2 linked regions of the Homo sapiens genome follow. The protein of the gene in region 1 interacts with the protein of each later gene in a pairwise test. Each region holds a gene or a part of one and is shown on either strand. Other genes may lie near its edges.

Region 1 (4,349 bases):
CTTGGCACAATCCTGAACTGGGCAGAACGTCCTTCCCAAACTCGCGGAAGACAAATGGCTCCTGTGACACCCTGAGCTTACGTTTCTTTACAAACGATGCTTCTCTGACACTCTTTCTGTAGAATTTCTCTCCAATATGCTGCTTCTGGTGCTGATGAAGGTATGCAGTGTCATCCAAGTTTTTTCCACATGCTCCACTCCTGTTCAGCTTCTGCTTGTGATGAGTTTCCTGGTGGTCAGCAAAGTGAAAAACATCCTCCAAGATGAGGCCACACATTTCACAGGGGTGAGCCTTCTTAGGAGAAACACCTGCCCTAGGAGTCCTGCTCTGAGACTCTCTTTGTACAGAAATTCTCTGCTTACAAGGTGCCTCCTCATCTTTTGATCCACACCAACAACCTGAGAGCAAGAAAATGCTGGTCAAGTGCAAAGTACCTCTGACGGGAAGGCACAGCCCACCCACAAGTACGTCTCACAAATTGAGGAATTAATCTATAGAAATATTTGCAGGAACACAATGTTGGCTTCAAGTTGAAGATGGGGCTGCTGGCCGGGCGCAGTGGCTCACGCCTGTAATCCCAGCACTTTGGGAGGCTGAGGCGGGTGGATCACCTGAGGTCAGAAGTTCGAGACCAGCGTGACCAACATGGTGAAAACCCATCTCTACTAAAAATACAAAAATTAGCTGGATGTGGTGGTGAGCGCCTGTAATCCCAGCCACTCGGGAGGCTGAGGCAGGAGAATCATTTGAACCCGGGAGGTGGAGGTTTGCATTGAGCCATGATCGCACCACTGCACTGCAGCCTGGATAACAGAGCGAGACTCCATCTCAAAATAATAATAATAATAATAAAAAGAAGAATGAGCTGCCTAGCATTACTGGGCTATAAAGGTCACAGAATCCAGGAGGCCTCATGATGTAAAGAGCACAAGCATACAGGCAACACAGGGAGTAGAGGCAGGGTCCACAGCTCCTTCCTCTAAACACAAGTTGTGTACGGGACCTTATCTCCTAATGACATGTGAGTGCTATGTAGAAGCATATGGACTGGGCGCGGTGGCTCATGCCTGTAATCCCAGCACTTTGCAAGGGTGAGGCAAGTGGATAACCTGAGTTCAGTAGTTGGAGACGAGCCTGGCTAACACGGTGAAACCCTGTGTCTACTAAAAAAAGAAAAAATTAGCTAGGTGTGGTGGTGCAGGCCTGTAATCCCAGCTACTTGGGCGGCTGAGGCAGGAAAATCACTTCAACCTGGGAAGCAGAGGTTGCAATGAGCCAAGATTGTGCCATTGCACTCCAGCTTGGGCAACAAGAGCGAAACTCCATCTCAAAAAATATAAATATAGAAGCATATGTCAAGACCAAGAAAACATGAGTACAACACAGCAGAGGGTGGTCATGGATGGTTTAACATAGGGCATACACTTCCTAATATGTAATCGATACACCAATATCAGAGACAAGTGCAGATGAAAGCACAAGAAAAATGGGTGAGATGTGAGTATTAGTGCTGGGGTGGATATCACAGTAGAAGTGAAAAGGTACAGAACTAACACGTGTGAAACTCTCAACAATGGGGAGAAAAAGACAAATAGTGTGTGCCTACTCATATTGCCACAAAAACACTTGGCAAATATAAATGGTTTCTGGTATGATTTGGATAAACCCCTGAAGTCATGCCCTCCCCCAGCATGGCACTCCTGAGGGACAGGCTCCCTTTGAGCCTATCGTGATGAGCCTGAATTGAACCACATCTTGTCAAACATGGAGGTCTCTCCATCTCACACCCAGTACATAGGACCCGACGATGTAACTATGAAGGGAGAGACAGCAGAGATGAACAGCCAACACTAGCTCAGGACAACTAAGCACCTGACAGCCCACAGGAGAGTAAGGTAAGTATTACAAAAGAATTCCTAAGCAGGGTCTTGCAAGAAGAGTCTATGGTCTATGGTCTATGTAGGTAGTGACAATGTCAATGAAGGCAATTCTTGGCACAGGGAGGCACAAAGCATTGTCAGATAGAGGAAGGAAGTGTTAATAGAACCTGGGCACACAAGAGCTACCGATTTGGACAGTCACCTGACAGCCAGAGAGCAGGCAAAGTGGATACACTTAGGTGCCTATTAGACTCCTGACTCTGACTCCTTCCCTGGGAGCCTGGAGCAAAGCAGGTGTTGGAGGTGCTTAAGGAAAGGAAAAGGCAATACACACAACTTACATAGAGAAGTGTAGAAGGAACCTGTGTCCAGGCTCCTTAAGTGAGAAAGACAGTCCTGTCAATGAAAAACAGGGGAACAGTAACACTAGCTCAGGTCACAAAGGTGAGCGTGAGCAACTTACCCAGCGAGGATATGAGAGCCAGGTTCTCTAGCATCACATCACGGTACAAGCACCTCTGAGCCTCACTAAGAAGACACCACTCCTCCTGGGAAAAGTTCACAGCCACATCTTCAAAGGTCACAGTGCCCTGCTATGATAGTGACAGATGAAACCACAAACAGCCCCTCTGCTGAGGTACCACAACCCACCTCTCCCACACACCCACACTTGCCCATCCTCCTCCCAAGGTCCCCAACATAGTGTTGAAACTATGTCCACTAGTGCCTTTGTCTCTTCATGGGCCCACTGGTCAATTGCCATCAGCAATAAGCAGTAAGTGGACAAATAGGTATCCATGCTGAGGTCCTGACATAAAAAGGTCCATCCCCTTCTGAATAGCGATATCCAAGCTCATGTAAAGCCCAGGGCAGCTGCCTGAGCCCATTGGACAAACTCCCTCTCTAAATATACATCATTCTTTATACTGCAAAGACACATCCCCATGGCCACCCCTACCTGAGTTTTCCCTACCATCAGCCTCTCTCTGGCATCCCCACAAATAGAACTTTGTTTTTTGGGGTTTTTTTTGAGACATAGTCTAGCTCTGTCACCCAGGCTGGAGTGCAGTGGCATGATCTTGGCTCTTTGCAGCCTCCGCCTCCTGGGTTCAAGTGATTCTCGTGCCTCAGCCTCCCAAGTAGCCGGGATTACAGCCACGCACCACTATACCCGGCTAATTTTTGTATTTTTTTTTTTGGTAGAGAGGGGGTTTCACCATGTTGGCCAGGCTGGTCTTGAGCTCCTGGTCTCAAGTGATCCATCCGCCTTGGCCTCCAAAAGTGAGATTACAGGGGTGGGTCACTGCACCCAGCCCCCACAAATAAAATTATTTCACAAGATGAAGAGGGTATAACGGCCCATGATTCCCTTGGGAATATGCAATGGTTTGTTTCCATAACTCTGCTGGTAGGGATGGAATTGAAACCCACCACAAAATATAACAACCTGGAACCCTGCCTTATCACCTTGATAAAACGGGCTGTTAGGCTAGGATACATTATTCAAGAGAGCAGAGTGGGAATGAGATTTGTACTCACACCTTTTAAGGTTGTCCCACTTTCACAAGATGTCAAAGTGACACATCATATTGGGCCTTCAATTCTGGCCTTATACCAAAATGTGGATAAGCATCCAGACTATGCTTGACAAATACAAATAGGATCCAATATTAACACAGAATTTCCATGGTTTACAATAGCAGTGGTAATCCCAAATCATCCTGTGAACGTCTCCCGGAATGACTCCATAGCCACACAGAACCACATATGGCTTCAGATATCCATGGACCTATTTCACTTTTGTGCTGCACCAGCTGAGACCTCAGCTGTAGCAACCCTCCTCTGTCCATCTAATGCTGTTTAAAGCCCAGCCCCTGGATTTGTGAACCAAACCACATCTACTATCACAGATGAGCATATTTTTCACTGCCCACATGCACCAAGCTGAATGAAACTCTCCAGGCACTCCCAAAGTCATCTCAAAACGTTTATGAATCCAGACAGTGATAAATAGTTACAACTTGGCACCAACTCAGGCAGAAGTGTCATCTTCCTTACTCCTATGCTTCTGCATGCATCTATCTCATCTATTCTCTCCTCGGATGTCTATGTCCCCTTCCAAACTCTACTGTCTGATACATCCTGCCATGATGTTCACTCACACCCTCTCAGGTGTTTAGGAAGCCCAATAACATCACTCAGGGACGTAAGTAAGAGATCCACTCCTCAGCCTGTAGTCACACCTTCCTGGCCCCTGAAAAGATTTACCACCAAAATCTGAAGCATGTCCTCCTAAATGGACCCATAACTAACTTACTGAAGTTCACCCATTAGCTTTCAAATATTGGATGTCTCCAGTATCAACACCCTCCCAGATACCCCATCCTGTATGTCTAGTTATCCATTTAATGCCACCATTTATTGGTCACTGACTCTTCATATGGCCAAAACAACACTCTTGATATCCA
Region 2 (3,500 bases), on another chromosome or scaffold:
TCTCGTGCCTCAGCCTCAGAGTAGCTGGGATTACAAGCATATGTCACCATGCCTGGCTAATTTTTGTATTTTTTGTACTGATGGGGTTTCACCATGTCGGCCAGGCTGGTCTCAACCTCTTGAGCTCAAGCAATCTGCCTGCCTCAGCCTCCCAAAGTGCTGGGATTACAGGCATGAGCCACCACGCCTGGTTCCTAAGGGAACATTTTTTGAACATAATGAATGATTTACATCTTAAACCCATTTCATTTTCAGACCTCCACAAAAGAATCCCAACTGCCCACCAGTGACAAAAATTTGGCATTACCTGTTGCAGGGAAAAAACAAGACAGTAGGAAGACGATCGACCATAAATTCCCAAGGAAGGTCATTCTGAGACACGTCAATCCTGGTAAAGGGAAAGAACAGAAATGGCAGATGATCAGCCCAAGAAACACCAACTTGAAAGAACCTTCTCAGATAACTTCAAGAACCTGGTGCATTTTTTACACCCCACATTGGGCTAGTCCCTTCTCGATGAATGTACTACCAGGTGTGAGCTGGGCGCTGATACTTCCAAGACATACAACATTCTACTACGTGGACGCTTTCCACTGAGTGGCAATGTGATGTCCTGAAAGTAAAAATGAACTTGCAGAAAATGCCGCACTGACACCTGAGGAGTCATTCACTCCTCACCTGACAGGATCTAGCCAAGTATTTTAATCCCTGAATAGCTCTGGGAAAAGAAAGGAAATCATTGAGCAAAATACATCAAGCCCCTCTGAAGATGGAAAATTATACCCTCTTTATGTTGTAAATCTGGATAGAGACCAAAAACAGCCTATTTTCTTAGCAGATTTGACATTAATTTTCTAATACAGAAAATGACATCTGTACTAACTCACCCAGCCTGTGCTCAATCACTGTGGGAGCTAACCGCAACTGCTCTAGAGGCCTGCCCCGGGCAGCTGGCACAGAGCTGGGCACACAGCTGGGCGCCCACACTCGGGCTAAGCAGACATGGAGCCACAACAGCATCCTTTATGGAAGGGGCTGCATCCTCCTTGCGGAGGGGCTATTCAGCTACTATTCATAAACAGTGCACACAAAAGATGAACATGTTTTCAATCTTTACCTTGACAGAAGTTTTTAGAAAGCATAACTGGGGGGAGTGAGGGTGCGGTAAGTGTCATGTATGTGTCCAAAAGGATGAAATTTGCTTTTCAAAAAATGGCACAACCAGGCTGAGCACAGGGGCTCACGCCTGTAAATCCAACACTTTGGGAGGCCGAGGTGGGTGGACTGTTTGAGCCCAGGAGTTCGAGACTAGCCTGGGCAACATGGGGAAACCCTGTCTCTACAAAAAATTGGCCGGGTATTCTGGCACATGCCTGTAGTCCCAGCTACTTGGGAAGGTGGGAGAATCACCTGAACCTGGGAGGTTGGGGCTGCAGTGAGCTGTGATTGCACCACTGCATTCCAGCCTGGGCAACAGAGTGAGACCCTGTCTCAAAAAAACAACAACGCCGGGCGTGGTGGCTCACGTCTGTAATCCCAGCACTTTAGGAGGCCGAGGCAGGCAGATCACGAGGTCAGGTGATCGAGACCATCCTGGCTAACGCGGTGAAACGCCACCCGTCTCTACTAAAAATACAAAAAATTAGCTGGGCATAATGGCGGGCGCCTGTAGTCCCAGCTACTCGGGAGGCTGAGGCAGGAGAATGGCGTGAACCCGGGAGGCGGAGCTTATAGTGAGCTGAGATTGCACCTCTGCACTCCAGCCTGGGCAACAGAGCAAGACTCCATCTCAAAAAAAAAAACAAAAACAAAAAACAACAACAGCAACAAAAGGCATAACCAAATGAAAACCATTTACCAAAAGTTTACTAACAAAACAGCACTCCTGCCTCACCTGTGCCAGCCTACCTAAAACATTAGTGTTCCTTTCTAAACAAGTGGGAGTGAACACTATATTCCATAATTAAATGCTTTTTCTCACTTGATTCTTACTTCAAAGAAAGCAAACTATAAAATTAAAACATTGTAAAAATCCACTCAGAATTCCATTGGGCTAAATAAGGCCCCCCTTTCTTATGCAGGCTGCAGGCTTGGTCTATATGCTTACTTTTTTTTTTCTGAGACACAGTCTTGCTCTGTCGCCCAGGCTGGAATGCAGTGGTGCAATCTCAGCTCCCTGTAACCTCCGGCTGCTGGATTCAAGTGATTCTCCTGCCTCAGCCTCCTGAGTAGTTGGGACTACAGGCACGTGCCGCCACACTTGGCTAATTTTTTATTTTTAGTAGAGACAGGTTTTCACTATGTTGGCCAGGCTGGTCTCGAACTCCTGGCCTCAGGTGATCCGCCCACCTCGGCCTCCCAACATGCTGGGATTACAGGCATGAGCCACTGCACCTCGCCTATATCCTTACATATTTTTAAGAAGAGTTGTCATATATTTCATACTCTGTTCTTTTCCATTAACTGTATGAAAAGCACTGTTGAAGGATAAAAATTCCATTAAATGCCCAGCCATAATTTACTTAAACATTCATCTCCTGGTGGATGTAAACAATGCTATAATGATGAGCTCATGCTTCTTCGGAATTCCTATTCCATTACTTCTCCAAAGTAAAATTAACTGGGTCAAAAATGTGTTAACTGTTTTTGTTGATTTCTTGTAAATGTTGCCAAAATGCTTTCCAAAAGAGTTATGGCAATGTACTCATTCCATTAGATACATCTGACTGCAGTTTCCATTTTATTTTATCAACACAAGATTCTGTCACTTAAAACCACTGATTACTTTAATATGTTAAATGATACTTTGTTACTGTTTTAATTTACATTTATTAGGTTATAATTTCCCCACTTGTTTATTTACTCTCTCCTCTTAAAAGAAAAACCTGCTCACATCCTTTGTTCAGAATGGAATCGGTCTCAGCCATCTTCTAAACCATTTTAATTTCCGGGGAGGCTGGAGTATGAATGCCTGATTTAATCCTGGCCCCTCATTTGCAGCTTGAAACTCTGGGCAACTTGTCGAATCTTTCTATGTCTCAGTTTCCTCCTCAACACAAATAGCACTTTCTTTTTTTAACTAGAGTGCCTTCACTAAGCGTCGCAAGGACTCAGTCAGGTAATATGTATATCAAAAACTCTCCCAACATAGTAACTCCTCAGATTTGATTCTAATTATTACTTACAGTGCATATAACAGGTGACACAGAGACACTGGAAAATATATTAATGGTCCCCCTTTTTGTCTGCTTTCCCTGTTTTCACTGCACGTATTTCTAGTGGAATCTGTCCATTTTTCTCTCTTTATTTTTCCAACTGCTTCCACTTTGGAAAGTTTCCATCTCCCAGAGGAATCAGCAAATCCTATTTTTTGTTTTGATTTTTTTATATTTAACTCTTATCTATCTGTAGGGTTTTGGGGGAGGTGGGGGGTTAAATGTGAACAGTTTTCCTCACCCAAAACTGCTTACTACCCCATCTAAAGACTCTGTATTTGAGCC

Evidence for each region. The genes of interacting proteins can lie anywhere in the genome.
Region 2: the proteins of ZNF417 (region 1) and TXNDC11 interact in binary tests that used the Homo sapiens proteins (3 or more experiments, as listed by UniProt).

Annotation. Positions count from the first base shown.
Region 1 is NC_000019.10:57,909,716-57,914,064, forward strand, and holds part of ZNF417 (zinc finger protein 417), read right to left. Parts: intron 2,475-4,349; coding exon 2,345-2,474; intron 400-2,344; coding exon 1-399. UniProt on the Homo sapiens protein: May be involved in transcriptional regulation.
Region 2 is NC_000016.10:11,683,858-11,687,357, forward strand, and holds part of TXNDC11 (thioredoxin domain-containing protein 11), read right to left. Parts: intron 389-3,500; coding exon 308-388; intron 1-307. UniProt on the Homo sapiens protein: May act as a redox regulator involved in DUOX proteins folding. The interaction with DUOX1 and DUOX2 suggest that it belongs to a multiprotein complex constituting the thyroid H(2)O(2) generating system.